Linked DNA regions of Homo sapiens: region 1 is linked to region 2. Evidence: fine-mapped expression QTL. A gene starts in region 2. The other region holds a variant in brackets. All regions are shown on one strand. Distances are between the middles of the regions.

Region 1 (15,941 bases), 22 kb before region 2:
TCTGTGTGGTGTGTCTGTTTGTGTGTGTGTGAATCTACGTGGGTGTTTGTCCATCTTTTTGTCTGGCCTCCTGTCCCCTCTGCACAGAGCAGCTGGGTGGGGATGCTGGTCCTGGGGGCTTGTCAGCAGGATGTGGGCGTGGGGCAGCCCTGGGTGAGGCCTGAGTACAGGCCCCAGGTGCCTCCTGCACAGGGGTGGCTGAGCCAGCTCCTCTGTGGCTCCCGGGTCCCCACCGCCGGTCACTGGGCACCACCTGTCCTGGCCACCCACTCCTGCCCACCCTGCTCTCCGCAGGGGCCTCCTTCCTCTTTCAGCTGTGCGCCCTGGTTGTGGAGGCTCCTAAGGAGGTTGTGGCCTCGGTTTACCACCTGCCTTGGCTCCTTGGTGTTGCCAGACCCTGAAGGCAGCCCATGCCCTGGCTGAGATCCTTCTGGGGCGGGATGTGCTGGAAGCAGCTGAACCACGTGGTGATGTACCAGCTCCTGCTGTCCCCTACATCCCCAGCACCGCCAGCCTTCCCTGGGCTCCTCCGGCCGGCTCCTCTACCCTGTACCCGCCCCACCCTGCTACCACCCCCCAACCAGACTTCCAGCTCCAGGCAGGGTCGCAGCCTCCTGGGCTCCCAGCAGGACAGGCCTCACCCAGACCCCGCAGGAGCCATGGGACTTGGGCTGGGTCTTTGGGCCTGGCTGCAGCCCCTTTGGACCTGACCTGAGGAGACACCCTGGCTGTGGGAGGCAGGGTGGGGGTGCCGGGCCCAGCACAGAGGTGCCCAGGGTGCAGGCTGGCACTGGCCCGGCAGGGACCGTGGATGCCGCCGTTTCAGGCTCGAAAAGGTTTCCATGCCCCAGAGCCTGAGCCCGGCAGCCCCCGAGGATGTCTTGGGGACTCTGTGCTCCCCAAAGCCGAGAAGGTTAGGCTTGACCCACAGCCTCTTCCAGGCCGGGGAGGCAGAGGCGCTCCAGGTCGGTAGGGCGGGGCCCACAGCCCAGGGTTTCACGTCCCCAAAACGGGGCAGGGTGCTGGAGGCGCAGGTGTCCACAGGGTGGTCGTTTTGGTCTCTCCTGGACTTGCACGCGTGTAGTGCAGACTGGCTGCCGGCAAAGCCCTGAGCCACATTCATCTGGGCCTTGTTAGGACAACAGGGACGGTGCGGGGTGGGGGGGTTGCGGGGCGCAGGACCACGTCAGTGGAGGGAGGGAGGCCGATATCGGTGCCCAGGCTGGGCCCAGGGGCCAGCGGGTCCTCACCTGGCTTGTGGCTGCCCCTGTTAGGCAGCCCGGATGGAGGGGCTCTTCCAGCCCTGCTGGCCCCGGGAATGCAGGGACTCAATTCCCCCTGGTCTCAGTGGCTCTTCCGGGAGCAACACAGCCTGCCCGAGTCGACACCACCCCTCGGGTTTGAGTCCCTTCTGTCTACCCCTACCCCCGCCAGGGCACTGCCCCCTTGCCCGGAAGAGGCAGCGGCACCCCCAGCCCCTTGGGGAGGATGCCCTGCCGGCCCCACACTCGGTGGATGGGCATTTTGGGGCTAGGATTTAATGGGGGTGACCCTGCCCGACCCCTCTATGTTGGTTCCACGGCGTCAGAAGAAAGCTGTTATTAACCCAGCTTATTTTCTACAAGTCTTGTTTATTGAAAGGATCTGAAAAGCGTAATAAGGCTTTCAATGACATTTAATACATTTTCAAGAAATTAATATGAAACATTAAAATTTACTTCAAAAATCCAAAGTTTTCTAGATCATTCCCATCTCACGCTGCTTTAGAGGTCAGTTCACACCTTCTGTGTTCAGATGAGCGGCTGGAATTCTGAACACTGCCGTCTTCCAGCCCTAACGCTGGGCGCTGGTCCCTCTCTCCTAAGCCCACGGCTGGGCTTCCCCTGTGCCCAGGGTCATGGCGGACTTCAAGCCAGGCCGGCTGCCCAGAATCACACTCAGGGTTTTTGGACGCTCAAGTCCACAGATGCTGAGGTGCCCAGACGAGGGTGAGCAGGGAGACACATGCCTCGGAGAACGTGCCCAGGCTGGGCCAGGCGGCTGCGGGAAGCTCCTCACGGGCAGAGGAGAACGTCTTGTGCCTTCCTTATCGATCTCCAGCAGATGAGGGCAACTTCGTGTGCAAAACTCAGAGAGCAGTTACTCAAAAAAAAGACACCCGGGCAGCAGTAACCAGGACACCAGGGTCCGACCACGGCCTCCACACACCTGTGCCCGTGGAAGACGCGGGCGCCGGGGTAGGCAGCATCCACGTGCTCCACAGCTGCCGGTGCTGGGCAGGCTGGAGACTCACGGGAGAGGCAGGAGGAGAATCAGCGTGTTGAGTCCCTCGCTGTGTTAGTGTGAAAAATTCTCATTACAGTTGCAAATAAAAGGGATCACGATCACTAGCCCCGGAAACCCTCATCTCCCGGACCATCAGGATCGCACTGAACAGAATGGTCCCCTAATGGTCCCTGAGGACAGCGTCTTGCAGAACATAAATGTAAACATTGAATGGCAGACGACTCCCTTCCCCTTGAAATCTTCACAAAAGTGTGTACGAGAAAGTATGTACATCAGCACTTCAGAAAGTTTAAAAGAGTCTCTAAAAAGTATATACAGGATTTAAACTACCTTCCTGGGAGCAGAAGCTACGTGAGGAATGTGTGGGTCGCTGGCGATGCCAGCCCCCTTCCCGCTGAGTGTCCCAGACTCAGTGCTGGCCTCAAGCGGGGAGGGCTGGATGGCAGGGGACGCATCCAACCCTCTCCAGAAACTGAGCAGAACAAAACCGCCTTGCCAGCCACTGGCAAGACCATGCTTTCAATGGCGCCTCCGCCAGGGGCTTCCCTGCAGAAGTTTTAGGGGAAGAGGTGCAGGTCAAGGGGAAAAGCATGGCAGCTCAAGGAAGGTTTTTGGCTGAGACATTTATTATCAACATTGAAGGACAGGTCGAGTCATTCTGACTCCTCTGAATTTCAACCGACTGATTTGCGGAAAAATATCCTGGCATGGAAATTGCGGCAGCTGGAGGCCGCGCTCCAGGGACCCACCGCGGGGTGTCAGCAGGACAGAAGCACTCCCAGCCCATTTCTCACGCTTCTTTAGAAATGCAAAAAAAGTCAGACATTTTAAAAAAACAGCTGATCTGGACAAAAGGCAGACCCAGGCTCTAACCCAGCTACAGAAAGGAAGTGGCCGTGCCACTGAGACAGGCGGTCACAGACACACGCAGATTGGTCTGTCCCCAGAGGGCGCTTGGAGGGCAGCGGAAGGATTCGGGCCTGGATAGGGGCTTGACCTAGCCCTCCTCCTCCTCCTCCTCCTCCTCCTCGAAGTGGGCTTGCTTCTTCCGGACGTTCCAATGCAGGCACTGGGCGAGGCTCTCAAACCAGTCGCTCACGGGGTCCCGCACACAGATGGAGGGGAGCGGGTAGCATGAGGTAGTGATGCTGATGCTGGGACGGGAGAGCAGCAGCCTGAGCCAGGGCTTCCAGAAAGGCCCACCCCCGGCCAAGAACCCTTCCTCCCTCCCTCCCTGGGAATGGCCGGGACTCTTTTCCTGTGGGGCCGGGCAGCCCCTCCCCGAGGCAGGCTTGAGCAGTGCCCCATGGGTGCTGGGACAGAGCCATCCCAGGTCCTGGAGGGGACGGTGCAGGGAACTGACAAACTCTGCCCCAGGGCCCTCAGGGGTGAGGTCCCAGGAGGTGGGTGGGGGTGGGCAGCAGTGCCAGGGGGGACACCCTCAGGCCTCTGCTGGGGCCAGGCCTGCATGTGCCACCGTATGCGACCCGCTGCCCCCAGGACGGGTGCCCCGACTGTGATGCTGCAAGACCCAGGGACTCAGGCCCTGTGGTGCCCTAGGGGACAAGCTGTGTCTACAGGCCAACCGCAAGAGGGCAGGCGCTGCCTGGCCCGGGGAGGAGGTTGGCAGGCAGCGCCCAGCCCGGCATGCAGCCCACACCTGTCTCCATGGCGGATCTCTTGTCTCTTCCGTCCATCAAAGGACACCCATGCTGTGTTCCTTGCTTCAGGTGACAGCATGATCTGAGGGTCAAGCAGGGAGAGGTGTGGGCCCCCAGCTGTGGGGAGGACGCTTCTAGGCACCCACCCCTGAGTGCTCGCCAGAGGTCGAAGGTTGGGCAGCTCTGACCCTGCCTTGCGGACGGTGCAGTGCACGTCCTACAGGCACCGGCCCAGCTCAGCACCGCCAGAGACCAACAATGGCAGAAAGCCCCTCAGACCCGGGCCCTGGGCACCTTGATGGACAGAACTCGGGCACCAGCAAGGGAAGGCTTGCATCTGAGGGGGCACAGGATGGCCCTAGGATGACGAGGCCGCGTCTGAGGCTGGAGCCAGCATGGCAGAGCGGGGTGCTAGGTCCCGGCTTTGTGTTGCACGGGGTCAAATGACTCACAAACCGGAAAAGGAGTGTCGTTGGCTCTGACCTTCAGCTCGACCCCTGCGGGGACCACGATGGGCCGGAAGGACAGCGAGTGGGGGCAGATGGGCGTGATCATGATGGCCGGCACGTTGGGGTGGATCATGGAGGCCCCGGCCGCGGCCGCATACGCCGTGCTGCCCGTCGGGGTGGACACGATCACTCCTGACAGGGACAGGCGCAGGCGTCACTCCCGCCCGAGGGACGCTCAGGGCCCCAGGACAGTGCTGCGGGCCTTACCGTCGCCCTGCACCGTGGTGATGAGGTGTCCGTCCAGGTAGACATCCACATTGGACAGGTAGGAGGAGGGGCCTCTGTCAATCACCACCTCATTCAGGACCTGGAGGGGCGACAGCATTGCACACTCAGGGCGGGGGATGCCGCACGGCTCGCAGACACCCTCCGTCTCACCCAGCCGGGCTCTCCGGAAGGTCCTCATCCCTGGGACCGAAGTCGCCCCACCCTGGGCCCCTCACCGAGGCCGAGGCGCCTCCACTCACCTGGTACTGCATGGCCTGCTTCCCGACATCCATGTCCAGGCCTGCAGCCTGCGAGCCGTTCTCACCCAGCCCATTGTGCACGGCCGTCTTCTTCCCCCGGAGCTCCTTCACCACCCTGACCTTCAGCCGACTCCGGAGAACAACAGCTGCGTTCCCTGAGGTCCAGCAGGAGTCAGAGGGCATGCATCAGGGAAGTCAGTGGGGTCAGGGGCCCCACCCCAGGGAGGCCAGTGGGAGTCAGAGGGCTCTTTCTTCTCCCAAGTTGACACACTTCTGTGCCTTTTTCTTTTTATTTTGAGATGGAGTCTCACTCTGTCACCCAGGCTGGAATGCAGTGGTGTGATCTTGGCTCACTGCAACCTCTGCCTCCCAGGTTCAAGTGATTCTCCTGCCTCAGCCTCCCAAGTAGCTGGAACTACGGGTGCGCACCACCACGCCCAGCTAATTTTTGTATTTTTAGTAGAGACGGGGTTTCACCGTGTTGGCCAGGATGGTCTCATCTCTTGACCTCGTGATCCGCCCGCCTCGACCTCCCACAGTGCTGGGATGACAGGCGTGAGCCACCGCGCCCGGCCGACACTTCTGTGCCTTCTGAGAGTGAGAATCAGCTCACTTCTGCCCAACACACATGGCAGCTTCAACCTGTGATCTGCTGAAACTTCTCAGTGTCAGTAAAAGGTTTGAACCACTCAAGATTTAGAAATCCCTGAATCTTGAAACCTTTAAATGTTGCTCCATGCATCATTAAATGAAAATAAACCCCCCGCAAGCAAGCGAGACAGCAGCGCCATGATCAGAGCTCCTGTGGGCTCCAGAACATTCCAACTCACCCTCTATCACCTGAGTAACTTGGGACTGAAAGTTCTCAAAGCTGAATGGGGTCAGGAAGCCCAGGGAGCCCAGGTGGAAGGCCATGACCGGAGGGACGCTGCCCTGTGAGCCGACGGAGAGGTCACTCAGTGCCCACGCCGTGCACCCCCGCACCACCCAGCTTTCCAGCAGCACCTCAGGAGGGACCCAGCTCTGTGGGGACAGCACCCCGACCCTCTGCAGGAGGGACTGGCCATGTGGACAAGCGGAGGGGGACGTCGCAGGCCAGGGTGGGCCGGGCCACCAGGGCCAAGGTTGGTGTGGGGAGCTGGTGAGGAACAAAGGTGGCAGGGCTGAGCGGCCCCCTGGGCACGGAGGGCTGGGGGAGCTGGCGAGGGCGGGTGGGAGGCAGCCTTGGGGTCGGAGCCTCGCGCCCCACAGGTGCTAATGGGGAGATGGGGAGAAAAGCAGGGCGGGCTGCGGGCATTTCCGGTGTCACCAACATGCAGTGGGCCAAGGGCAGAGCCAGGGTCCCCCACACAGCGTGGCCCTACAGCCCCAGGGGAGAGCTGTGCTGCTGAGAAACCAGGAAGAGGAGCTCAAGGGAGGCCCAGAGGGGATGGGCCAGTAGGCGAGGTCGTTTCCCAGGACCCACCACCCTGCGCCACTCCCTGCTGTCCCAGGCGGGCGCTGGCCACCCCCAGCCGTAGCACTGTGTCCACACTGCCCCTGGCCCCACCGTCGCACCCCACCGGGCTGCCACCATGGGCCTCAGTGCTGGCCGCTCTAGGTGACTGCTCTCGTATAAAGGGGTGAAAAGCAATGGAAGCCATGCTTGTGAGCCCCTCGTTACGCAGCACCTAGACTAGAACCTGGTGTGGGTCTGGAAATGTCAGCGCTTCACCTGGAAAAGCGAGGAAGCGTACAGCAGCGTCCCGTCTCCCCCCAGGCAGATGATGAAGTCTATCTGATTGGAAATGTCATCATAATCTAGGAAACACAAAGCAAAACCAAGAAGAGGCTGTCACACAGTGGCCCCTCTGTGGCGCAGTGCGCAGACACCAATGACAAGGGCAACAGTGCCAGAAGCTTCCAATGGGGCGGGGAACTGTGCTGGAGAAACCAAGGACAGAGCTGCTGACAGCCCACCTTCTCGAAAGGTACAGAATTTCTTCTTCACTGCCCCAAAGCTTTCATCGCTGGCGATGGCAGGGTCTTCTAGCACTTTCTTTTCCACATACACGATCATGTTCTCCTGGAAGCAAAGTGCCAACCTGCTCATTCCACCTGCAGACCCCACCCTCCTGCAGGGAGGTTCCCGACTCACGGGCGCTGTGGTCAGAGACCTGGCATCGTGGCCTGCATGCCCGCCCCCCCACGCTCACGCTGAAACTTCATC[A/G]CCAACGCGCCAGGAGGAAGCAGGACCTTTAAGAGATGACTGGGCGGAGGGGGCTCCCTCTCAGGAATTGACTAAGGCTGTTATTTCAGGAGTGGCTTTCCTGGGCGCCGCAACCCCCACGCCTGCTCTTCTGAAGAGAAGACACAGCAGGAAGGCCCACGTCAGATGTGGCCCCTTGATCTCGGACTTCCCGGCCTCCAGGGCCACGAGCCCACCAGCTCATTGTTGGTCACCCAGTCTGGTGCTTGCCATGGCGGCACACACAAACCCAGACACCCGGCAGATCCCCACTCAGTCCCCAGTTCCAGACAAGCAGCCGTTGCCCAGCACTTGAGGTGGTTCCCATGGTCTCACGGGGCGGTGATGTGGATGGAGGCCCCCCCAACTCCATGTGCACCCCAGGCCCCCTTCCCCCCTGCCCCGCGTGCCTCCATGAGGTGCGTGCAGAGCTCCTTGAACGGCTGCAGTAGGCTGGCATCTCTCATCTTCTTGATGACAAGGACGCTCTTTGGGGACTTGTTCCACGTCAGCCGCTGGCTCGCGGGGTCCTGAATGTGCCTTTAGGGGAGGAGAAAAGAGTTCACACCAGCTGCGATCTCCCTCTTGCGGAAAAGGTGTATGACTTAGAAAATAAAAAAAAAAATCTTTAAAAAGGTGTTTTCACCTCCCAGGGAAACGTGCTCGGTGGCCACGGGCTCACAGGGCCTAGGGTCGCGCCACAGAGACAGGGTCAGGGGTCAGTAGGGTCCGGAGTGACCACCTCTCACCTGCTTGGCCCATCACACGCAGGCTCAGGCCCACAACCCCCACCCGGGCACCACGCTGACCCAAGTGCACGCACCACAGCCCTTCCCAGCCCCCGGCCACTTGCCTGCCTGGCTCCTCAGTGACGCTGGTGGGGCAGAAATGACCACGAAAGCCCATGGCTGGGCCACTCTTTGCTTGATGCCCTCCTCAGGCCCCCACGAAAACCCAAACCAGTTGACATGGTGACTCTGTCCCTAGGATCCTCTGCACACAGTTTCTGGCCCCACGGGAGCCCAGGACCCCTCAAGGACCCGCTTCCCCCCCTGCACACAGCTCACTACCTCCCTGCATGAACGGACTTTAACCTCACTCACTCTCACAGTAAAAATCACAGGTTTAAAAGTCCGTGGCAGCCCTGACACAGCCACCCGCGCTTTGCTGGCTCTGACCCCGACCACTGTGCCCGGTGTTTCTCCACAGGCAGGGCCCACCCCGGTGGGATTCCCATTACCACGTTAGTCACAGAAAACATCCCAGCCCAGAACCGGGAACACACACCACGGAGCCTGCTCCTGTTCCCAGAAGCCAAGGGAGGGCGCAGCGGGGCTGGCCACCGTCGTCAGCGCTCACCGCCTATCCTCAGCCCCAAAGGACAAGTTCTTATACCACCGCGCCAGCCAGCTAGTTCCAAGTTGCCCAATCGAGAAAGCTGCTGCCTGCCATGCCTCTTCCCAGCAGTGACTTCCCCAGGAGTGTGACCGTCCCACTAACACCCCCAGAACCACAACACAGACGCCGATGGCAGCCACAGGGCCACAGACCTTAGCCCATCGCTTGTGACCTTCGGAAGCTGGTCAGCACTCACCCTGTGCAGGCATTACTGGGAGGCGTGGGGTCACTCATGCCATCCCCTATGAGCTCAGCACCTGCCGGGTCACACATGTGGCTCGCGAGGTAGCCCCTGCCTGCTGGGAGCCGGCCAGTGTGTCCACAGCATCCAGGCCACGCTTGGCGAACACGCGGCCGCCCCATCGGTATGGTCCTGACTGTGCGCCCACACTAGAAGCCTAAGCTCTTCATACTCAAAACTCAAAGCAAAACACAATTGTGATGAGACTTGGTAAAGTTGTTGTAAAAGCAACTAAGTCAAAAGAGCTTCCTACACTTATAAAAATCAAACAAAACAAAACAGTTTCCTCATTGGTCACATGGTCCTCCTGCCTAATCCCTTCTGAAAAAAAGTCCTCAGTTCAGCAGCAAAGAGGCCACACTTCAGCTCCCTGCTCCTAACTGAGCCGGGTGGGACCAAGCCCTCTGTTCCCGTGGCCTCAGACCTGGCCAAGTACCCAGCCTCCAGCCTCGCCCCAGCACTGCGCCAGCCACCGCTCTGGCCCGCGGAACCGGCTGGGCCCCAGGGAAGGCACCCTCAGGCCACAGTCAGGTGGAAGGGCGTTCCCTGCCTCCTAGCCCGCTGCGTCACTCTGCTTGGCTCCGGCCCAAGGGCGTGCAGGTGGCTCACGGTCCTCCGGCCTGGTCAGCCAGCAAAGCCCCCGCCCTGCACACGGCTCCCCCTGCTCTCCCCGCCAACAGTCACCACTGACCCAGTGGCCTGGCCTACACCCATTCCAGCCCTGAGGCTCAGCTGAGCCCAGCCAGAGCCACCAGCAGCGGCGTCGTACACCGGCCCAGGCACCCACCGCTGTGTGTGACCACAAACCAGCGCCTCGACCTCTTCCTGGGTCACCTGCAAAGCAGGACACCAGCCCTTGCAGGCACGCACGGCTGTGGGTACTGCACGGAGAGGGCAGGGGGTGGCGTGAAGCTTGCAGGCACACACGGCTGTGGGTACTGCACGGAGAGGGCAGGGGGTGGCGTGAAGCCAGCATGGCCACAGCCTGGCCCGCCTGGCCAGCTCCTACTGAGACTGTCTCACACATGGGTGGCCACGCACACTGTGACACACGGGCACTCACGCACCTCCACAACACAGGCCCACCAATTCCCTGGACAACAAAACAGGAAGCGGGTGCCCTCCTCACCAGGCGCCCCCACAGGGTCTTGCTCTGGACTATCAGGGAAGACGGAAGTTCAGATGCATGGGAAGCCCTGCCCCTCCACAGCGGGGATGGGAAGCGGGAGGTTATGATCCCAGAGACACAGAGCCCAGAGGGGGCGTGCTCCCATGGGGGTGCCGAGAAAGCTGCATGCCCCTCAAGGCTGCCCCACAAACCCACCGCTTCCTCCTGCGGGGCTGTCTGGCCTCGGGCAGCTCGGGGACCACTGAGTACGCCCTGGTCTGAGGGCTGAGGCAGAACATGCACCTGTCCGGTGACCCCGCCCTGGCCCGAGTGACTGACGGCTGGTGAAGGCAGCAGCTGAGATGCGAGTGACAAAGGAGTGGCTCTGCCAGGACCAGGAAGTGCAGGGAGGGCACCAGGCAGCGGGGGAGAGGCCCGGTGGGGTGCCAGGGACACAGCAAGCACAGGATGGCGGGACAGAGCCACGGCGGGGCCGGGAGGGCAGTGGAGCACTCTGGGTCACCCACGTGGCTGCTGTGCAGGGAAGGGATGGTGAGGCCGCGGCGAGTGGTCAGGAGTCCACACAGCGGAGGGCAGCCGGGCAATAGTGCAGGGGAGCTGCTTGGATATTTTGGGATCAAAGTGACAGAATCTGCAGATGGACTGGATGAGGGAAAGCAAACAGGGGTCGGGCCCCCCGCCTCAGGCATTTGGCAGCAGTGACAGGTCACAGACACTCCGGGAACCAGTGGCACTGAAAGGGCTGGGCCTCAAAAGCACAAGTGCGAGTCACTTCCATCCTAAGGGGCTCCGTCAGCGTCTGGAGCAGCAAGGCCAACCCCCGTCCTGCCTGGGACGCACGCTGCCGCGGGGCCCACACTTTGCAGAGCAGCTCCTCGGATGACTCCCCCGTGGCTCCTGGGACCTGAACTTCGGTGACAGCCCAGGGCTGGGGCCTCCGTCCCTGCTGTGCGCCCCCAGCCTCCATGGCACCGGTGCCTGTCAGCAAAGGGCCATGCAGTGGCCGCCCCCGTATCACACGGCCGCATTGCGCTTTCTGGTCAACAGTCCCCAGCAGCCTGCGCGCTGGAACACTCGGCCCTTCCGCATGGTCCTCCCTTGCAGAAAGTGAAGCATCCATGACTCCGTGAAGGAGGAGGCCCTGAAGAGAGCCCGTTCTGCACAGAGGAAGAGAGCCCGTTCTGCACAGAGGCCTGAGAGCTGAGGCACCAGTCCCAGAAGCAAAGGCTTCTCTGGGGAAGAGGCAATGAGGATGTCTACCAGGTGCAGAATACGACTCTCAGGGCTGGCTGGGAGCTCACTTTTTTCTCTGGAGACAGTCTTGCTCTGTCGCCCAGGCGGAATGCACTTTGATAATCACAGCTCCCTGCAATCTCAACCTCCCAGGTTCAGGTGATCCTCCCGCCCCAGCCTCCTTGGCAACTGGGACTACAGGTGTGTGCAACGATGCCTGCTAATTTTTGTATTTTTCTGAGTCTGAGTCTTGCTCTGTCGCCCAGGCTGGAGTGCAATGGTGCGATCTTCGGCTTACTGCAACATCTGCCTCCCGGGTTCAAGCAGTTCTCTGTCTCAGCCTCCCAAGTAGCTGGGATTATAGGCACGCGCCACCATGCTTGGCTAATTTTTGTACTTTTAGTAGAGATGGGGTTTCACCATATTGGCCAGGCTGGTCTTGAACTCCTGACCTCGTGATCCGCCCCCCTTGGCCTCCCAAAGTGCTGGGATTACAGGTGTGAGCCACCGCAGCTGACCAATTTTTGTGTTTTTTGTAGGGATGGGCTTTCACCATGTTGCCCGGGCTGGTCTCAAACTCCTGGGCCCAAGTGATCTGCCTGCTTCGGACTCCCACAGTGCTGGGACTGCAGGTGTGAGCCACTGCGCCCAGCCTGGATTATAATTCTTTACACATAAAACACAGATATCAGATCGATCACTGTTGCGTTTTTCCCATGACACTATGACGGGCCTCCAGGCAGAATGTGTTGACAAACTGAACCATCAAATAGCAAACGCAACCCACCCCAGAATTCTCACTCACTCTTAAAGAAACAAAAAGGCAGCCCTGAGGATCTCATGTGGAAGCCGCCACACCCACGGGCTGTGACCCGGTCTCCAGGCCCCGGCTCGCCTGCCGTCCACTTTCTCAAAGCCACTGGAAAAGCCACAGCTGGGGAGCCCCCGCTCGGATGCCTGCACTCAGGGGGTTCAGGGAGGACGCCCATGTGGCTTTTTGTTTAAATGACCTAAACATGTACTTCTCACATGAAGTGCTAGAATCTTCCTCAACACAGCGATCCCACAACTCCACACACATCCCGAGGACTCCCCCATCCCATGGCCCCCGGCACTCACATGATGGTCTAGGGGTTCTCTCCCTTCCAAGAACCCCCCGTCCTGGGGCCCCAGCACTCACATGATGGTCTGGGGGTTCTGCAGCACACAGGCCTTTGGTCCAAAAGTGGTCACCGGGCATGGCCCATGAAGAGAGCGTGTCCTCCTGTGGGGAGAGGGCAGTGTCAGAGCCACCAGGGCCTGAAACCAGACATGCAGTGACAGACACAGATACAGAGGAGGTTACACGGTAAGGCATACATGCAATTTGAAAGATGCCAACTCCATCTGCCCAGCAGCCACACAATAGCCCTTGGAAGGTTCTGCCCAGGTCCATGGCTGCACTGGAGCGGCACCTGTGAGGAGCACGCATGCCCACGCGCCGCTCAGATCATGACCCAAGCCGGGGAGAGCTTCAGCCCAAACAAGGAAAATGCCAGGGCCAGGGCCAGCCTGGGATCAGAATTCCTCAGTGTCTCCAGGACCCCTCTCTAGATCTGCATTTGGGACTCAAAACCTGAGACAACATCTCATCTCTAAATCGTCTAGATTAAAATTCTAGCACAAATGTTCACTCTGAACTCATGTCAATAAAAAAGACGTAGGCCGGGCGCAGTGGCTCACACTTGTAATCTCAGCACTTCAGGAGGCTGAGGTGGGTGGATCACGTGAGGTCAGGAGTTTGAGACCAGCCTGGCCAACATGGTGAAACCCCCATCCTTACTAAAAAAAGAAAAATTAGCCAGGCCTGGTGGCGTGTGCCTGCAGTCCGAGCTACTCAGGAGGCTGAGGCAAGAGAACTGCTTGAACCCAGGAGGTGGTGGTTGCAGTGAGCCGAGATCGAGCCACTGTACTCCAGCCTGGCTGAAAAAAGTGAAACTCTGTCTCAAAATGAATGAATGAATGAATGAATGAATGAATGAATAAAAGACGCCAGATGAACGGCTCAACAACTTTCCTAGTGATTTAAACATGGCCAGGTCACAGTTAAATCACCCAGCCAGGGGCTGTGGCAGCCGCACGCGTCCTGGGGAGAATGCTGTCAGGACCGCTGTGCTCCTCAGGGTCCAGCACTGAGGCTGCCCTCGTCCTAGGTGCCCGGGAGCCTCCCAGTCCCTTCACAAACTCAGAAAACTTGCACACAGCTGGCCAGGCAACGGCCCAACAAAATCCTCAAGTCCCAATGCAGAAGAACGGCCTTCCGCTGCCTCGCAGGGCCAGACAACCCCAGGAGAGCCGTGGTGCCCTGAGGGCTGCTCCACAGGTGACACAGGCGTGGCCATCAGTGGTCACGGACTTGTTTACCTCAGCCTTTTAAAAATTGGTAAGTACAGGCCGGGTGCAGTGACTCACGCCTGTAATCCCAGCACTTTGGGAGGCCAAGGCAGGCGGATCACGAGGCAGGAGATTGAGACCATCCTGGCTAACACGGTGAAACCCTGTCTCTACACAAAAATACAAAAAATTAGCCGGGCGTTGTGGCTCACGCCTGTAATCCCAGCACTTTGGGAGGCTGAGGTGGGCGGATCACCTCAAGTCAGGTGTTCGAGACCAGCCTGGCCAACATGGTGAAATCCCATCTCTACTAAAAATACAAAAATTAGACAGGCGTGGTGGCATATGCCTGTAATCCCAGCTACTCAGGAGGCTGAGGCAGGAGAATCACTTGAACTCGGGAGGCAGAGCTTGCAGTGAGCCTAGATCACACCACTGCACTCCAGCCTGGGCGACAGAGCAAGACTCCATCTCAAAAAAAAAAAAAAAAAGAAGAAGAAAACGAAGTACATTACAAAAGAATTTTACTTACTTACGAACTGAAAAGATTATTGCGGAAAACAATGTTTCTCGAAGTGGGTGTTGGGATTTAATGTTTCCTTCCCAAGGACAGGCTATGCTTGGGCGTATTTGGCTACCTCCTCCCCCACCTCACCCTGAAGGCGCCTGTCACTCACTATGGAGGCGACCTCTGACCCAGGGCTGCTGTCATCAGGTTCAGAATGCAACAGAAATGGTGCATTATGCCAAAGAACCCACAGGAAAAAAAAATAAAACCCCAAAGCAATTCTGTTCACGCAGTCACTGCGCTGGGGTGGCCTGGAGGTACAGGACAACGACCCCCACTGACAACGAGGCAACGAGGCATCTGAGAAAGGCTGAGTGGTGACGTGGTGCCTGCGGGATGAAGGCAGCCACCAGCGCTCGTAGCCTCCTGGCTCAGGCAGCGACTCTGTAGACAGAAAACGTGGGAGTAGCCTGTTTCTCCACGGCTGCCACCACGTCAGAGGCGCTACAGGCTCTCCCATCTCACTGGGTAAGACAACATGCTTTCTAAGACTACTTTTCACCAAAAAGCCCCCCTTGCATTTGATAGTCGTGATCCTTGTTAGGCAGCGCCGGCTCTGGCAAGCTTCCACCTAAAACTCACCACATTTACCATCACCAGAACCGAGAGCACCATCCCCAGGCACCATCACAGCTGTGCTTGTGCGGCCACCGTCATGCAAAGCCCGGGGCGCTGTTGCCCAAGCAGCATTGTGCAAGGGTGAGCGCTGTGGGCACTCTTGGCACAGGAGGGAGCCACTTGCCCAACATGTGAGAGGGCTGGGCCCGCCCAAGGCCACGCTCATAACTCTGCCTCCACCAGCCCTGCTCACAGTGCAGAACCCCCCAGCCTTCGCCTCTCAAAACAAGCAGAGCCAAGAGGGATGTCCCCTCACACCCCAGTGACTTCTGTAGAGCAAATGTTTCCAGGCCAGGCACAGTGGCTTGCACCGGTAATCCCAGCACTTTGGGAGGCTGAGACGGGCAGATCACCTGACGTCAGGGGTTCAAGACCAGCCTGGCCAACATGGTGAAACCCCGTCTCTACAAAAATACAAAAATTAGCCGGGCATGGTGGTGCACGCCTGTAATCCCAGCTTCTTGGGAGGATGAGGCAGGAGAATCACTTGAACCTGGGAGGCGGAGGTTGCAGTGAGCCAAGATTGCGCCACTGCACTCCAGCTTGGGGGACAGAGCGAGACTCAGTCTCAAAAAAAAGTTTCCTCTCCAAGTGCGCTTCAGTCTAACATCAAGGGTCAGCGTAGGCGCCAGTTAGATGGTTCTGTGCTGATACAGACAGATAGAGAAACACGGTGGCACCCTGTGCCTGTGCTGGCACCTGGGAACGTGCGCCAGGCAGGTGTCCATGGGCCAGGATCCCCCTTCAAGGGCACAGCTTCACCTGGGCAAGGACCCAGCCTCACCTTCCGGATGCATCGACGCAGACTACTCAGGAGAATTCTTCATAATCGTTTTAAGAAAGAATATTATGAAATCAGACGAGAAAAAAAAGAGGAACCATCCCTCCCAGTTGTACCTGAACTCCTTGGTGCTCCCCAGGGCGGGCGAGGCAGACAGGCTGCGAGACTTGGCCCGGCCCCGGATGGGGTGGTTGTAACTCCAGGTCTCATCGCCGTGGCAGGCCGAGCAGCAGTAAGCAGCCGCGTCTGGACTCAATTCCTTATTCATGGTCATTTTTTCTTGTTCCATTTCCATTGTCAGGAAATGAGAACTTCGGTCAGAAAAACACTGATGCCTTAATTTAATAAAATAAATAATGTAAATAAAGTAAATAAATATGTATGAAACAATAATAATTTACACATACATATGTTCCATTTCATCAAGGGGAAAAAATGGCTGAAGTCCAA
Region 2 (15,941 bases):
CCATGAATTTTTGACAGGTGCTGAGGTGATTCAACATGAGGAGGATCATCTTTTCACCTAATAGTTCTGAACAACTGGACAGCCACGTCTAAAAGAACGAAGCCCAACCACTTCCTCATACTACATACAAATATTAACTCAGAATGGATTATAGACCTAAATGTGAGGACTAAAACTATGAAACTTTTTAGAAGAAAGCACTGGAAATTTTTTTTTTTTTGTCTTTTTGTGAGACAGGATCTCCCACTGTTGCCCAGGCTGGAGTACAGTGGTGTGATCTCAGCTCACTGCAGCCTCAACCTTCCAGGCTCAAGCAATCCTCCCACTTCAGCCTCCCAAGTAGCTGGGATTACAGGCATGCACCACCACACCTGGAAATTTTTTTTTTTTTTTGGTGGAGATGGGGTCTCCCTATGTTGCACAGGCTGGTTTCAAACTCCTGGTCTCAAGTGATCCTCCCACCTTGGCCTTCCAAAGTGTTGGGATTACAGGCGTGAGCCACCTCACCCAGCTGGAAAAAGTCTTAGTGGTGTTTAAAATCTTTTATACTTAATGGAACCCTGAATTTTTTTTTTTTTTCCTGTTTTAGGCAGGGTCTTACTCTGTCCCCAGGCTGGAGTACAGTGATGTAATCATGGTTCACTGTAGCCTCTACCTACTGTGCTCAGACAATCTTCCCACCTCAGCCTCCTGAGTACCAGGGACTACAAGCATGCACCACCATGCCTGACTAATTTTTGTATTTTTTTGTAGAGATGAGGTTTTGCCATGTTGCCCAGGCTGACCTCGAACTCCTGGGCTCAAGCAATCTCTCTGCCTCAGCATCATAATGTGCTTGGATTACAGGCATGAGCCACTGTGCCTAGCCAAAACACTGTTAAGAAAATTAAAATACAGTTGGGTGTGGTGGCTTGTGCCTGTAATCCCAGCACTTTGGGAGGCCGAGGCGGGAGGATCGCTTGAGTCCAGGAGTTCAAGACCAGTTCTGTGTCTTGCTAGTGGTTATATAATTAATTTAAGAGGTAACACTGCATAGAGCCATACACACATGTAAAACTGGTGAAACCTGAATAAGGTCTATAGTTTAGTTAGCAGTATTTCAATTCCCTGGTTTTGATATTGTACTATGGAGGTGTATGGAGGTGTAAGATGTTAACACAAGGGCCGGGCATGGTGGCTCATGCCTGTAATCCCAGCACTTTCGGAGGCCAAGGCGGGCGGATCACCTGAGGTCAGGAGTTTGAGACCAGCCTGACCAACATGCAGAAACCGCGTTTCTACTAAAAATACAAAAAATCAGCCCGGCGTGGTGGCGCATGCCTGTAATCCCAGCCACTCGGGAGGCTGAGGCAGGAGAATCACTTGAACCTGGGAGGGGGAGGTTGCGGTGAGCTGAGATCACGCCATTGCACTCCAGCCTGGGCAACAAGAGCCAAACTCCATCTCAAAAAAAAAAAAAAAAAGATGTTAACACAGAGGGAGCTGGTGAAGGGCACAGGGGTCTCTCTGTACTATTTTTACAACTTCCTATGAATTAGTCTATGATTATTTTTTTTTTCCCCAGACGAAGTCTCGCTCTTGTCCCCCATGTTGGAGTGCAATGGCGCAATCTTGGCTCACTGCAACATCTGCCTCCAGGGTTCAAGCAATTCTCCTGCCTCAGCCTCCTGAGTAGCTGGGATTACAGGTGCCCGCCGCCACACCCGGCTAATTTTTGTATTTTAAGTAGAGATGGGGTTTCACCATGTTGACCAGGTTGGTCCTCAAACTCCTGACCTCAGGTGATCCGCCCGCCTCGGCCTCCCAAAGTGCTGGGATTACAGGTGTGAGCCACCGCACCCAGCCAATTATTTCAAAATAAACAGTTAATAAAGGTCAGACACAGTGGCTCACACTTGTAATCCCAGCACTTTGGGAGGCCGAAGCAGGGGAATCACCTGAAGCCAGGAATTGGAGACCAGCCTGGGCAACACAGCAAGACCCCGTCTCTACAAAAACATTAATAAAAAATAAACAAATCAAAATCACAAAATGTTAAAAAAAATGTATTATTACTGCTACATTACCTAGAAGCTCTATTTTGTGTGTGTGTGTGTGTGTGTGTGTGTGTGTGTGTGTGTGTGTGTGTGTGTGTGAGAGAGAGAGAGAAATAGAGATATTGAGAGACTGAGAGGTAGGGTCTTGCTCTGTCACCTAAGCTGGAGTGCAGTGGTGCAATTACAGCTTACTGCAGCCTCAATCTCCCAGGCTTAAGGGATCCTCCCATGTAGCTGAGACTACAGGCATGAGCCACTATGTCCAGCTAATTTTTAAATTTTTTGTAGAGACAGGGTCTCGCTACCTTGAACGGGCTGACCTTGAACTCCTGGGCTCTGGTGGCCCTCCTGTGTTGACCTCCCAAAGCATTGGGATTACAGGCATGAGCCACTGCACCCAGCCTAGAAGCTCTGTTCATATTTATTTGCGAAGATCAATTTGATGACTAAGCAGTAAACTAATTTATAAAATAATATTAAATATTAAAACCAACTTTAAACAATTATCTTCACCTATGTATGTGTGTGTGTGTATATATATACACACACACACACACATATATATATATTTAACAAGTATCTCCAATACCACAACCAGTGTATTTTTTGTTTTTTTGAGATGGAGCTTCGCTGATGTTGTCCAGGCTGGAGTGCAGTGGCGCGATCTCGGCTCACCGCAAACTCTGCCTCCCAGGTTCAAGCAATTCTCCTGCCTCAGCTTCCCAAGTAGCTGGGACTACAGGTGTGCGCCACCACGCCCAGCTAATTTTGTATTTTTAGTGGAGACCTGCCTCTTAATTCTCCAACATGGAGGGGTTTCTCCATGTTGGTCAGGCTGGTCTCAAACTCTCAACCTCAGATGATCCGCCCGCCTTGGCCTCCCAAAGTGCTGGGATTGCAGGCGTCGCCACCGCGCACGGCCACCATTATGCCTCGGCCTCCCACAGTGCTGGGATTACGGGCGTGGCCACTGCGCGCGGCCACCATTGTGCCTCGGCCTCCCACAGTGCTGGGATTGCAGGCGTGGCCACCGTGCGCGGTCACCACTGTATTTTTTGACAAGGGTGAGTCAGGACTGACACTTAATTCATTTGTTTGATATATTAACTGCTTTAAAAGGACACACAATGCTAGCTGCACCAAAGTGCATTCAAATTCCTCATAGCATGAATCTAATTTTAAAAAACCTTTGTAGGGCGGGCATGGTGGCTCACGACTGTAATCCCAGCATTTTGGGAGGCCGAGGCGGGCAGATCACGACATCAGGAGTTCAACACCAGCCTGGCCAAGATGGTGAAACTCCGTCTCTACTAAAAATACAAAAAAAATTAGCTGGGCGCGGTGGCAGGCGCCTGTCATCCCAGCTACTCAGGAGGCCGAGGCAGGAGAATCGCTTGAACCCAGGCGGCAGAGGTTGCAGTGAGCTGAGATCACGCCACTGCCCTCCAGCCTGGGGGACAGAGTGAGACTCCGCCTCAAAGAAAAAAAAAAAATCCTCTGTATTAGGAAGTTTTATTAGAAAAAAATACTAGAGCACAATAAGAAAATATTCATAACGAACTTATACAAAGTAGCAAGGAAAACATTAAGATGCCAATAAATAAATGTGCAAAGAACATGAACAAAAGTCACACACACACAAATACAAACATAATACACGAGTTCGTTCCCATGTAAGAACTCAATCAATATTTGTTGCAAGACTAAATGAAAAAGGAAAATTTATTTAGTGACAGAAATGGGGAAACATTCAACCTCAACCCTGAGTGGGAAAAAACTTACTGCCCACTAAATTACCCATCTCATCTCACCCCGGTAAATAATGCCCAGTGCTGGCATGCACACTGGCAGTATACAAACTGAGAAAGACTTTCTGGAAAGTGCTACAGCCATGTGACCACAGGGCTTCACCCTGTGACCTCATTAAACCTAAGCAGATTACAGGTCTGAAGGGGGCTTTCTTTAGATGTGGCTCCACCTACTTAGGGGCAGATGAAGAAAACAGGGGTCTGGGCAGTTCTGAATGGGAAGGCCAGGCATCACCTCCCTCTTCAGTTGCACAAAGTGTGCGTGGCATCCTCACATCCCATCTGCCTCAATTTCGCTTTTTCTCTGAACACTTTTCACCATCTGTCTGAAGCACACACACACATTTTATTCACTTCCCCATTCCCATGCATGAATGCTAGGACCTTTGCAATTGTGGGCCAGGAAAGATTGCAAATGATAAGCCACCAGCACAGAGAGTAGAAATGAAATCCTGGGGTTACAAGCTAAAGCATTACTGACACCCACTTGTCCAGAACGGCTGAAGCTGGGCGGTGACTGTCAACAGGTATATACGGACTAGAAAGTGGAGCTGCTGGAGGAGGCCCTGTACCTTCCTGCCATGACACAGCCTCCCCCCAAGTGCTGGGCTTGTGTGCTCAACACTCCCTCTTGCTGTCATCCTACCACACCTGCAGACTGGAGGTAATCCAGATGCAAGGCCGTCGAGTCCCGCAAACACCCACCTGCCTCTTAATTTTCCAAGTGAGACCTACATTTCCTCAAGCGTGAAGCTCAATAAAATCAACTATTGTTTTCCGTTTTCATCACGAGCGCCACTTTCCCCCTATTTGTTCACCGCCTCCACTCCACAAGAACTGCTCTTGACTTGGCCAACTTTCTGGGACACCCTCACTACAAGGATTTATGAGTCAAACAGGTTTTTGTGCTAGCCTGGAAATCTAACTGCTGACAGCAGTTGTTTCAAGAAGAAAATGCTGTTTTGGAACCAAACAGCAGGCTGCCAACTGAAACAACATAAACCCACCTCCAAGTTCAAATGAAACAAACAAACAAAAAGACTGGTCCAAGTGAGGCAAGCTGTGGTGGCTCACACCTGTAATCCCAGCACTTTGGGAGGCCAAGGTGGGCTGATCACGAGGTCAGGAGTTCGAGACAAGCCTGGCCAACACAGTGAAACCCGTCTCTACTAAAAATACAAAAATTAGCTGAGCGTGGTGGTGGGCGCCTGTAATCCCAGCTACTCAGGAGGCTGAGGCAGGAAAATCACTTGAACCCGGGAGGTGGAGGTTGCAGTGAGCCGAGATTGTGCCACTGCACTCCAGCCTGGGCAACAGAGCTAGACTCTGTCTTAAAAAAAAAAAAAAAAAAAAAAGACTGGTCAAAGTGGCTTACGTCTGTAAGATCAGCACTTTGGGAAGTGGAGGCAGGAGGATCTCTTGAGGCCAGGAGGTTGAGACTAGCCTGGACAACACAGTGAGACTCTATCTCTACAAAAAATTTTATAAATCAGCTAGGTGTGGTGGTGCAGGCCTGTAATCCCAGCTACTCAGGAGGCTGAGGTGGGAGGATCAATTGAGCCCAGGAATTTGAGGTTACAGTGAGCTATAATCATGCCACCATAAACACGCCTGGAGGACAGAGTGAGGCCCTGTTTCTAACATACACACACATATACACACAGAAACATCTCGAGAGGACACCTCCAAATGATGAAGCTATTTTGTTGGGTACTGCGGTGGCACCTGTGATTCCTCAAGTAGCTTGGAATCAGCGTGCTAACACCATAAAGTGGCTGCAAAAGTCCCAGTGAAGTCACTGCTGAGAGCAAACAGGCCTTACAGAGAAGTTCCAAGGGGACAGGAAATTTCCAGAGGCTTGAGAGGACAATGTTCAGGGGAATAAGTACTTGAAGGGAATTATCTAACAAGGTGTTAAAGTAACTAGCTTCTTAGACAAGATGACATCAGGAGGAAAAAAAAACTTATTAAGGCAAACATGTCAGTTTCAGGCCAACTAAGGCTGTCAGAGAGACATGGAACACAAGAAGAGAAGAGTTTTGAAATGTATTCCCATCAAGAGCCAAGAATAATGAACTTTTGAATGTAAAACTTAGTGTGTTCCAAAACAAGAAAGGAAAAATAACTTGTTACTCGGAATCGAAGCCAAAAGGAATCTCATTGCTTGGGGAGGAGGGATGGGAGGGTGGGGGTGGTCCTTGGCCTGGGAAGGAAAACTCCACCAGGCCTTCGGAGCTGGGCACGCCCTGTTCCCACAATTAAGAAAAAAAACGACGACCTAGAGCTCAAGGCCGGTGCTGACATCTGACCTACTGGATGGCAGCCGCCTGTAGGAACATCACCATAGACTATTGGAATTTTCTGGCAAGTACTGGGCACTAAATCAGAGATGTGTTTTTAGAGAATTCCATGCCAATACTGCTGTATAGAATCTTTTATTCATACTTTCCCACTAGGTTTGGGCCCCTCTAAGCTTTCACGAGTCAAAGACCCCTCCTGCTTGCTGAAACCACCCACGGAAGGCCGGACACCGAGGACCTGGCCGCCCAAGCAGAGGCGACTGACAAGCGCGGTCCGGGCTGGACGGCCCCACCTTCCCCGCCCGGGAGAGCCAGGCCGGACAGCGGCCTCCCTCAGACCCGTCCCCAAGGCCGAGCCTCGCCCTGGGCCGTGCTGGTGCCCCATTCGGGACGGAGCGGTGGCCCGTCAGCACTTCCACGGCCTCCTCAGCAGGCCAGATGGGCAGGGCCGGCCTGGTGTCTCCCCGCCTGGCCGCGCGCTCGCGGGCAGCGATGACCCCAGGCAGCGGGCGACCCCAGGCGGACGGCAGGCCGGGTCTGCTCACTCACCGTTCGCTGCCGCGGGCGCCTGCGGGGGCGTCTACATGCCGGACCGAGCCCGCAGGCCCCGCCGCCGCGCCGCCGCCAGCCGTCGCTACCTGGCCCTTGGCGCCCTGGCCGCCTGTTGCCCCATGGCCGCCCGGACCCCGGCGCCGGCGCCGCCGAGCAGCAATGCGCCGCGCCCGCCCACTGCGCAGGCGCACCCGCCACGCATGCGCGCTGCCGCGCACGTGGGGCGTCCCGCGCGTCTGCCGGGTCCCACCGGCGCCGGGACACCCCGCGCGGGCGGGAGGCGGCGGGCGTGGCGGGAAAGAGGCGGGCGGTGGGGAAGAGGGGCGAATCGCGGTGGAGAGCAGTGACCAGGGAGTGGAGGCGGGCAGCGGGGACAGGGGCGGGCGTCCGCGACTCGGGTAGGCGGGGGTCGGCGCCCCGAGGAGGGCGGCCCCCGGCTCCCGTCCCCACTCACCTGCCGCGTCCGGAGGGCGCCCCCGGGTCCGCCCGCCACGTCTACGCCTAGGCGCCCCCGACATTGTGATCCCAGCCCGGCGTCCCGCCCCCAACTCACCGCCACCGCGGGCGGGACCTCCCGGACCACGTGGGCCGGCTCAGGGGAGTGCAGGTGCCCCGCGAGAGCTGGCCCCGCCCGCCGCCGCTTCCCTAATTACCGGGCTGTGACACGGTGTGGGCCGAGCCGGATTTGGGAACCGAAACTTAGAGCAGCTGCGGCAGCGCTGCGCTCCCTCGGGGCTGTCCGTCGGGGCTGGGAGGGCGGCCCTGCGCCTGGGGGAACCGCGATCGGCCTCACGCCCACCTCTAGCGGCCAGGTGCGCCTTGCACGCCCACGAACGTCCTCAGAGGTCTACGCTTGGGATCCCAAGGCTGGCAGTGGAGGGAGGACCCGGTGGCCTGGGGCACCTCTAGGGGGACCAGGGAGCCGTGTTTTGCGCACCCCACAGGCTGGAGGACTCGGGGAGTTGGGGGAGGAGGCCAAAGCCACAGGAGCGGACTTTGTAGTGTTTGTTGGAACTGCGGGTCCCACCCAGCCCGCACTTGCTGAACTGGTGGCTGCTCATCAGCGCCTTCAGGCCTCAAATATCCCAATAATGTGCCCTATACCCAGTTCTCAGCTCTCGAGTCACTGTCAGGTAAACTGGCAATGCACGACCAGCTGCTCTAACCTGCTGGTCCCCCAGGTGCCAGACATTGTTTTGTTTTTCTGAGATAGTGTCTCATTCGTCCCCCAGGCCGGAGTCCAGTGGCGGGCTCACGGCTCACTGCAGCCTTGACCTCTCAGGTGCAAGCGATCCTTCCACTTCAGCTTCCCTAGTAGTTGGGACTACAAGTAGGTCCCGCCACACTCGACTACTTCATTCATATATATATATATTTGTGTGTGTGTGTGTGTGTGTGTGTAGAGATGAGGTTTTACCATTTTGCCCAGGCTGGGTCTCAAACTTCACCCGCCTCGGCCTCCCAAAGTACTAGGATTATAGGCGTAAGCCACTGCACCTGGCCCAGCCATTGTTTTCTGAGGTTCAGTCCCTGTCTATACTTTCTGTGTGATCACCTGGCCCAGGGTCGGTGTGGACCTGAGTCCTCTGCAGCCCTTCCCCACACCCGCATACCTGCTCTCTGGTCAGGACTCCTGGGACTTGAATCCAGAGACACGGAACACGGCCTGGCCAAGTCTTCCTGAAAAACACAGCTCTTCAGTTCAGGACCACAGTGAAGTACAGGGCACCAAGGGTGACTGGAAAGGGAAGCAAGGATCATGAGAACTTGGGGGATTTCTTAAGCTCTGTAACTTCTCCCGGGGTTATTTTGCAAACCCAACTGTTTCAAAGTGACCACCAGCCACACCCACAGAAGCGGCCTTGAGCTGCCCAGTTCTTTTTCTTTGGCGGGGGGAGAGGGGGCGGATAAGATCATTAACATAATAATGCGTGAGCTGAGTTTTTGCATATGATCATTAGCATAATAATGCTTGATCTAGATGGCGCACCCACAAGCCAGGCACTGAGCCAGGCCTCAGTAGAATCTTCTAGAGTGGAGGCAGTCAACTGCTTCTGCAGAGGCAACCAGTGACTGTCGTGGGCCCCAGGTCACACAGCAGGTGCCCTTCGCGTGTCCCGCTGTGTAGGGAGCTCCAGCAGCTGCCCCGTCTGTGGCATGAAAACCCTTTGTCTACCCTGGGCCTGGGCACTGCCTGCAGGAGAGCTTCCCTGTTTCAGAGATGAGAAAACAAAACCAGGGCTGTGGTTTCCTTCAGCTGACAGGTTGTGCAATTTCTCAGGGCAGGCCCCGGATATGACCTTGAAGATTCAGGGGCCAAGATCTCACACCCACACCTCACCCCAGGCCTGGCCAGCAATAACTAAGACCAAAGCTGGGAAGGCTCCTTAGGGCACCCAGAATGGTCCAAGAGGCAGCTTTGCTTGGGCTGAGACCAAAGGGAAGAGATGTTCCCGCAGCAGGAACAGAAGGGTCCAGGGCTATCATGGGGGCTTCTGCCAGATGGTGCACAGGAAGAGGCTCTGCCTTCAAGGGATTGGGGGTCAGGAAAGGCCCCCTCCTGCCTGACCAGGCCCCAGGGATGGGGCAGCAGTGGGTGGCATCCCCTGCCCTGACCTTCCTCAGCCCCAGGGCTGCCATTGCTCAAGGTGGCAGTGGACTCTTCACATAATTTCGCATTGTTTTTTGTATTCTTTAAGGATGGCTCCCATGTTGTTTACTTCAGAACCCCCAAAACCTGGACCCATCCTCTTCTGGGGGTCAGCAGGGATGGGGAGGGTGGAGGGAGAAGGGGGAACGGAGGCCATGAGGGATGGAGCAGGATGGGGTGCACTGGGGTACAGGTTGCTCCTGGGGAGGCTGAGGAGAGAGGGAAGTTGGCTTCAGGTGGCCTGGCTCCAGTAAACTGGGTGAACGAAGTCTGCCCAGAACCCACAAGGGTAAGTGGCCTGGAGCCTGGGGAAAGGATGACTGGGAAGGACTGAGGCTCCCAGTGAAGGACATCAGTATGGCAGGCTATCTGGTCATCTCATCCAGCCTCCAGCCAGCACCCGGCACAGGCCCTGCCCAGGCTGAAAGCCAGGATAGGGGCGTCTGCAGGGGCCAGTGTCTGGATCTGCTCACATGACAGTCTTCTGTTTGGCCTGGTTTGGGGCGAGGGGCAACCTCTTTCCCAGGATGCCAGCCATGTGCAGGGCATACTGAGGATTCAACAGTGGAAACCAAAGTCCATCAGGTGTTCACCTTCTAGTGGGGCAGACGGGCAAGAAGCAGAATTGGTGGGGGCAGGCAGGGGTTGGGGTACAGTTTTGACCAAGGTACCCAGGGACAAGTGTTTCTCTCTCAGGCAGAGGCAGCAGCAAGGACCAGGACCCTGAAGTGGTGAGAGCCTAGAGTGGGCGGGGATCATCAACAGTAACCACCTGGCAGGACTGGGACTCCCTGTGTCCTCACAAGATCCTTACCAAGCAGCCTAGTATAAGACGAAGTCTCGCTCTGTAGCTCAGGCTGGAGTGTAGTGGCATGATCTCAGCTCACTGCAAGCTCCGCCTCCCGGGTTCAAGCCATTCTCCTGCCTCAGCCTCCAGAGCTGGAGTTACAGGCGCACACCACTGAACCCGGCTCATTTTTTGTATTTTTAGCAGAGACGGGGTTTCATCATGTTGGCCAGGCTGGTCTTGAACTCCTGATCTCAGGTAATCCATCCACCTCGGCCTCCCAAAGTGCTGGGATTACAGGCGTGAGCCACAGCGCCCGGCCACAGCCTGGTACGTTTATTGTCCACATTTTTCACGCGGGGGCCAGAGGCACAGAGAGGCCAAGTAACTTGCTCAAGGTCACCCAGCGAGGAAAGGGAGCTGGGGGGTGGGGGTAGGGGACAGGGCGAGGCCAGAGAGTAGTGGGAGGGGCCGAGGCGGCCTTTCCCGGGAGCGCTCGGTTCCCGGCCGGCCCTTCTATTGGCCCCAGTCACTCAGGCTCCCAGGTCCGGCTCGGGGGGGAGCGGGGGGCCGCGCCAGGCCGCTGAAGTGTCCCCGTTTCGCGTGGGCAGAGCGCGCCTCCCCACGCATCCTGCTGAGGGCCAGCCTCTGCTAGGTGCGTGACACGGAGGGGACAGAACGGAAACCTTGTCCTGCTCAAGTGTGGACGTGCGTGCCACGTGCTAGAGTAAAATTGAGGTGGGGAACCTCCATCCCTGGGACATGGAGCACAGGGGCGACCCCGCGCCGCTTGGTCAAAGGAGGTCCGAGGCCCTGCAGGAACAGCCCACAGCCGGAGCGAGCTGCAGGTCACTCCACTGCCTGTGTCCACCTGCGACAGGTGCGCCCGCGCAAGCGGGGCGGAGCCAGGTGACCCGGACACAGGAAGCGCGCCAGGGGCCCCCACACCGCGGAGCTGCTGGCGACAAAGGGCGCTGCTCCTGCATAGGCCAGGCTAATGCAATCTACAAACTAGATTTCTGTGCCTACAGTTTGAAAATGATTGCAGTTCACTCAGCCAGTGTGGAATTATCCTCCTCTTTCCACACTGCCTTAGTCAGTGCCGCTGTCCAAGTGCACGTTGTTGGCGCCCGTTTTCATTTCCTGTTTTGCTAAGAAAGTGGGGCAGTGGCCTCCATGCCCGCCAAGGGACAGGCAGGCCGCCCCAGGGAGGGGTCCCCCTCAGCTCTGGCTCTTCCAGGCCAAAGCCAAGGGGAAGGGGCACCAGAGGGTCCCAGGTCCCACATGCCAGCTCCCTCAGTCTGCGGGGTGCCAGGCTAGGACACAGAAGCCAACAGGAATCCCCAAAGGGAGGAAGTGGAGTCGGGGGTGTGGCAGCCGTGCTGAGATGCTCGGCCTTTATTTACTCTGGGCAGGGACCAAGATAGGCCACTGCAGGCCGGCACCCTGCCTCCCGGCTGCTGGAGCCCCTCCCTCCCAGGAACTGCCAGCCAGGAAAGAGCCTCAGGTACTCTCTGCATTTAATTTTTAATTTTTTTTTTCTTTTGACGCCTCCAAGACAAGTTCAACTCTCTAGTGATTTTAAGTGGGGTTTTTGTAAGACAGCTGGCAGGGTTAGGGCTTGTGAAGAACTTGCATGTCTATGAAGAACTGATTTATTTCAGGGAAAAGTGGGGGATGACGAAGCCAGGCGAGCCCACCCCGTTCAGCCTGCCAATCACACCCACTTCAGCAGCCTAAAACAGCACCAGGTCACCCCACCAGGGAGACAACGCCATAGTGTCACTTGCAGTGCTGGCAGATGGGCACCCTTGGTGGCGTCAGAAACACACCCAGCACCTTGCCTGGAGCAGGGCGGCTGGGCCCTGCTCCGTGAATCCCAAGTGCCCTATGGGAGCCTCTCCGGCCAGGGACTGCCAGCCTAGAGGAGGGGCTGCTGGGTTCTCTGGTGCCCAGGGGAGGAGGGGGCCTACAGGTACTTTCTGCTGAGAGCCTTCTTCACTTACTAGGAAAAAGTTTGGCTGGGTGCGGTGGCTCGGCCTGTAATCCCAGCACTTTGGGAGGCTGAGGAGGGCGGATGACAAGGTCAGGAGATGGAGACCATCCTGGCTAAGATGGTGAAACCCCGTCTCTACTAAAAATACAAAAATTAGCCGGGTGTGGTGGTGGGCACCTGTAGACCCAGCTACTCGGAAGGTTGAGCCAGGAGAATGGCGTGAACCCAGGAGGCAGAGCTTGCAGTGAGCCGAGATCGCGCCACTGCACTCCAGCCTGGGCAAGAGCGAGACTCCATCTCAAAAAACAACAACAAATTAGCCGGGCATCTGGGCCAGGCGCGGTGGCTCACACCTGTAACCCCAGCACTTTGGGAGGCTGATGTGGGTGGATCACAAGGTCAGGAGATCGAGACCATCCTGGCAAACATGGTGAAACCCTGTCTCTACTAAAAATACAAAAAATTAGCTGGGCATGGTAGCAGGCGCCTGTAATCCCAGCTACTTAGGAGGCTGAGGCAGGAGAATCGCTTGAACCTGGGAGGTGGAGGTTGCAGTGAGCTGAGATCGCACCATTGCACTCCAGCCTGGGCAAAAAAGAGCGAAACTCCGTCTCAAAAAAAAAAAAAAAAAAAAATTAGCGGGGCGTCGTGGTACGTGCCTGTAATCCCAGCTACTTGGGAGGCTGAGGCAGGAGAATCACTTGAACCCAGAAGGCAGAAGTTGCAGTGAGCTGAGATAGCGCCACTGCACTCCAGCCTGGGCCACAGAGCGAGACTCCACATCAAGGGAGAAAAAAAAAAAAAGTTCCAGCTGCTGGAGCCATGGGAATTAAAAAATTACTTTTTTTTTTTTTTTGAGAGGCAGTCTTGCTCTCTCACCCAGGCTGGAGTGCAGTGGTGCGATCTTGGCTCACTGCAAACTCCGCCTTCCCGGGTTCATGCCATTCTCCTGCCTCAGCCTCCAGAGTAGCTGTGATTACAGGCGTGTGCCACCATGCCCAGCTAATTTTGTATTGCCTATTTAAGATTTTAAAAAATCACCAGTTTGGAAAGCAGGGAAGTGGATGGTTCTGGAGCCTAGGAGCGGCTATTTGGGACACACACAGCCATGGTTTTCCACACTACCATGGCCAGTGCTCATTTTTTTCTTACTAGATGCAGTTCTTTATATTCAGACCAAGAGGAACACTCAGTTCAGTCCCAAGGAAAGCTAGTCTCTGGAGTAACATCCTCAGACATTCTAAGGGAGGGAAATGGCAGAGGAGAAAGGCAAGGCAGCCGCCTGTGGAGACTCCCACGGTGCTGTGGGCAAGGCCTATGCCTGGGGAGGGGTCTGGGCGATGGCAGGTGGACCTCCCTGCTCTGCTGGCCTGTGAGGTGGAGCTTCCCAGGAACCCCTCCGAGGAGCCAATGCGCCACTCATGGATTCTGTGACGTGGTGGCGGCCATGGCACCGCCTGGCATGAGCAGGCCCGTCAGACCTCACAGCAACAGGGACAGCTTAGGGAAGCGGGCGCGTTGCAAACTGGAAGTGGACCCGTAAATAATCACCACACCAAAGTCCCTCATGTCAAACTGCTTTATTACATCTTAAATAACAGTACAGTTTAATATAGTATCTATCTTGCATCCAGCTTCCTTGCAGTACACTGACTTTAAAATTAAATACAAAAGGTGGAAAGGGGTAAGGGTGCAGAGAGCTCTACAGAGTTGTTGGACGGAAAGAGAAAGAAGGGGTTTCATTTGTATTCTCTTTGCCAGATCCAGGCCTACCGCAAGGTCACAGCACAGTTTTGTATAGAATGTTGCAGAAAACAGGATGGAGAAGCCACTACTGCTGCTATGAAGGAGTGCGGGGGGCGGGGCGGGGGGTCCCACAGAACCTGCTTTCCAAACGCTGCTGCTGAACACTGGCCTTGAAATGAACACCAGGACAATCTGTGTGTGATGGGAATGAGCCACCTCAGATGTGGAGGGCCCTGAAGAATCCATATAGGAGGGCAGGCTCTTCACTCCCTCTCCCTCCCTCTCTCTCCCTCCCCACCCTCAGAATCCAACAGCAGTCGTTTGCAACAGAACTTTTTTTTTTTTAAAGAAATAAAGAAAACAGTGACTTATCCCGCTACCCAAGCGTGTAGAGCCGCGCGCTGTACTGCTTCCGATATGTGCCACAGAGCAGCAACGAGAAGTGGACAGAGCCGCAATGGTTACAACTGTAAGAGGTTATTTCTTAAAAGAAAAAGAACACCTAAGGACTGAGTCCCATATGCACTTTTGAGCATTTCTACAGCATGCGATTCTAAGAGTAAACCCACCCAATATGGCAAACAATCAAAATTTTTAAAATTTAACTTAGAAAGTCTGAGATCATTATTTTCAAAACATTGATTTGTACATTGTTTCATACACAAATAATTGACTGACTATCCAAGCACAGGACAGGCATCTCTCTTGAAAACAGAGGTTCCTCCTAGTTGGGGGTGGGGTAGTGTTAGGCTATTATAAACTTCCCTCCAACTTCACAAGGAAACCCAAAGTGAGATTAAAAACTCAACTGAGAAGATAGACAGGATGGGTCAGGAGGAACATGGTGCTGGATCTGAGCTCACTTTTCAGCAAAGGTGAAGGATTCTCTGATCACGCATTTGAGACCGTCCCCGCATGTGCTTGGCCCCATGGCTTCTGAACATGTTCTTTTCTATGCCACGTTTGTGTGCAACAATGATCTGTGACATCAGACAGAAAATTAAAAACCAGGGACTGAATTTACATCATTGACAACATCAGAGAGGCTGCCCTAGACTCTCTGGTTTTGATTAACTGTTGAACACAAAGGAATACATTTTAAAAAGGAAATATGAATGCTTCCAAAATCTTGCTACAAACATGACTGAAATTTGGACACGATGACCAGATGAACAAAGCCCTCAGCATGTTTTGCATGAATGCCACAAAACAGGGTCACTGGTCTAAAATTCAAATACACTGGTGGAAAAGTGTGTCTGTCTGACAATTACACTCAAGTTTACCTTCTGGTTAACATTTTTATTATATATTTCCTTTTAAAATTCATTCAAGACAAAAAAGAAAACAAAGACGATGGCCCCGGAAGGAATGCACAATTTGTTTTAGTTTACAGCACAGAGATCTTTCTCTCAATGGGAATTGTGCTCTTGGTTTCAGCAATAAGTGAAGGAAAAAAGATCTTGCCCTTTTGAAGTTCTGAGGGGAGGTGTAGGGTGTCCACGTTAGTACGGTTGGATAGGATATGCTCTCATGGTAACGCGTCCAAGTTGGAATGGTCTTCCAGTCTCCATGGCATCCACATGCTGTTTTAAACAGAGTTTAAAGAAATGTGAAAAGAGGCAGAGAATCTAAGTGCAGACGCACAGCCAGGTCACTGCTCTTCCCATCACTGCATGAGTGTCTGCAGCTGAGGGCACGTGACTTCAGCTTTCTGTAAACGTTTCCCACAACACAATTCCAAATCAATGCTACATCAACATTTATCTAGAAACCGTTAATGACAACTTCAAATGTTCTATGAGAAACACGCACAGTTCTCCTCAGAGAAGGGCATTTGGGCTGCTGCATTACCTACTGGCGTTAGTTCCAGATCTTGAGGAAGCTATCCCAGGACCCTGTCGCCACAGCCATGCCATCGTCAGTCACGCCCAGGCAGCTGACGCGGTTGTCATGCCCAGCCAAGACACCTGGGAGCAAACAACAGCAGAATCACACCAAAGCCCAGAGGCATCGATCTCACCTGTGTGCCATGTTGTGACGAGGACGGATGGTGCATCTCTCATGGG

What was found.
Region 1: its variant is fine-mapped to the expression of NADK in whole blood (INTERVAL, PIP above 0.99).

Annotation. Positions count from the first base shown.
Region 1 is chr1:1,749,621-1,765,561 of GRCh38, forward strand. It overlaps NADK (NAD kinase), which reads right to left. Exons shown (of 12, transcript NM_023018.5): 2 at 15,608-15,826; 3 at 12,332-12,415; 4 at 7,561-7,690; 5 at 6,883-6,988; 6 at 6,638-6,723; 7 at 5,754-5,856; 8 at 4,924-5,078; 9 at 4,664-4,763; 10 at 4,431-4,588; 11 at 3,947-4,029; 12 at 1,612-3,440. The coding sequence starts at 15,786. The coding sequence ends at 3,284. It overlaps LOC112268218 (a long non-coding RNA gene), which reads left to right. Exons shown (of 2, transcript XR_002958243.2): 2 at 295-2,122. Among named protein-coding and RNA genes, the nearest start is that of NADK, 21 kb to the right of the region's middle. RefSeq lists enhancers at 3,504-4,033, 10,374-11,331. The variant A/G (reference allele first, on the strand shown) is at 7,133.
Region 2 is chr1:1,771,596-1,787,536 of GRCh38, forward strand. It overlaps NADK (NAD kinase), which reads right to left and starts at 6,875. Exons shown (of 12, transcript NM_023018.5): 1 at 6,694-6,875. It overlaps GNB1 (G protein subunit beta 1), which reads right to left. Exons shown (of 12, transcript NM_002074.5): 11 at 15,727-15,842; 12 at 13,691-15,458. The coding sequence ends at 15,736. RefSeq lists enhancers at 2,513-3,014, 8,651-8,820, 8,831-8,890, 8,901-8,970, 8,981-9,080 and 1 more and silencers at 6,391-7,590, 11,175-11,469.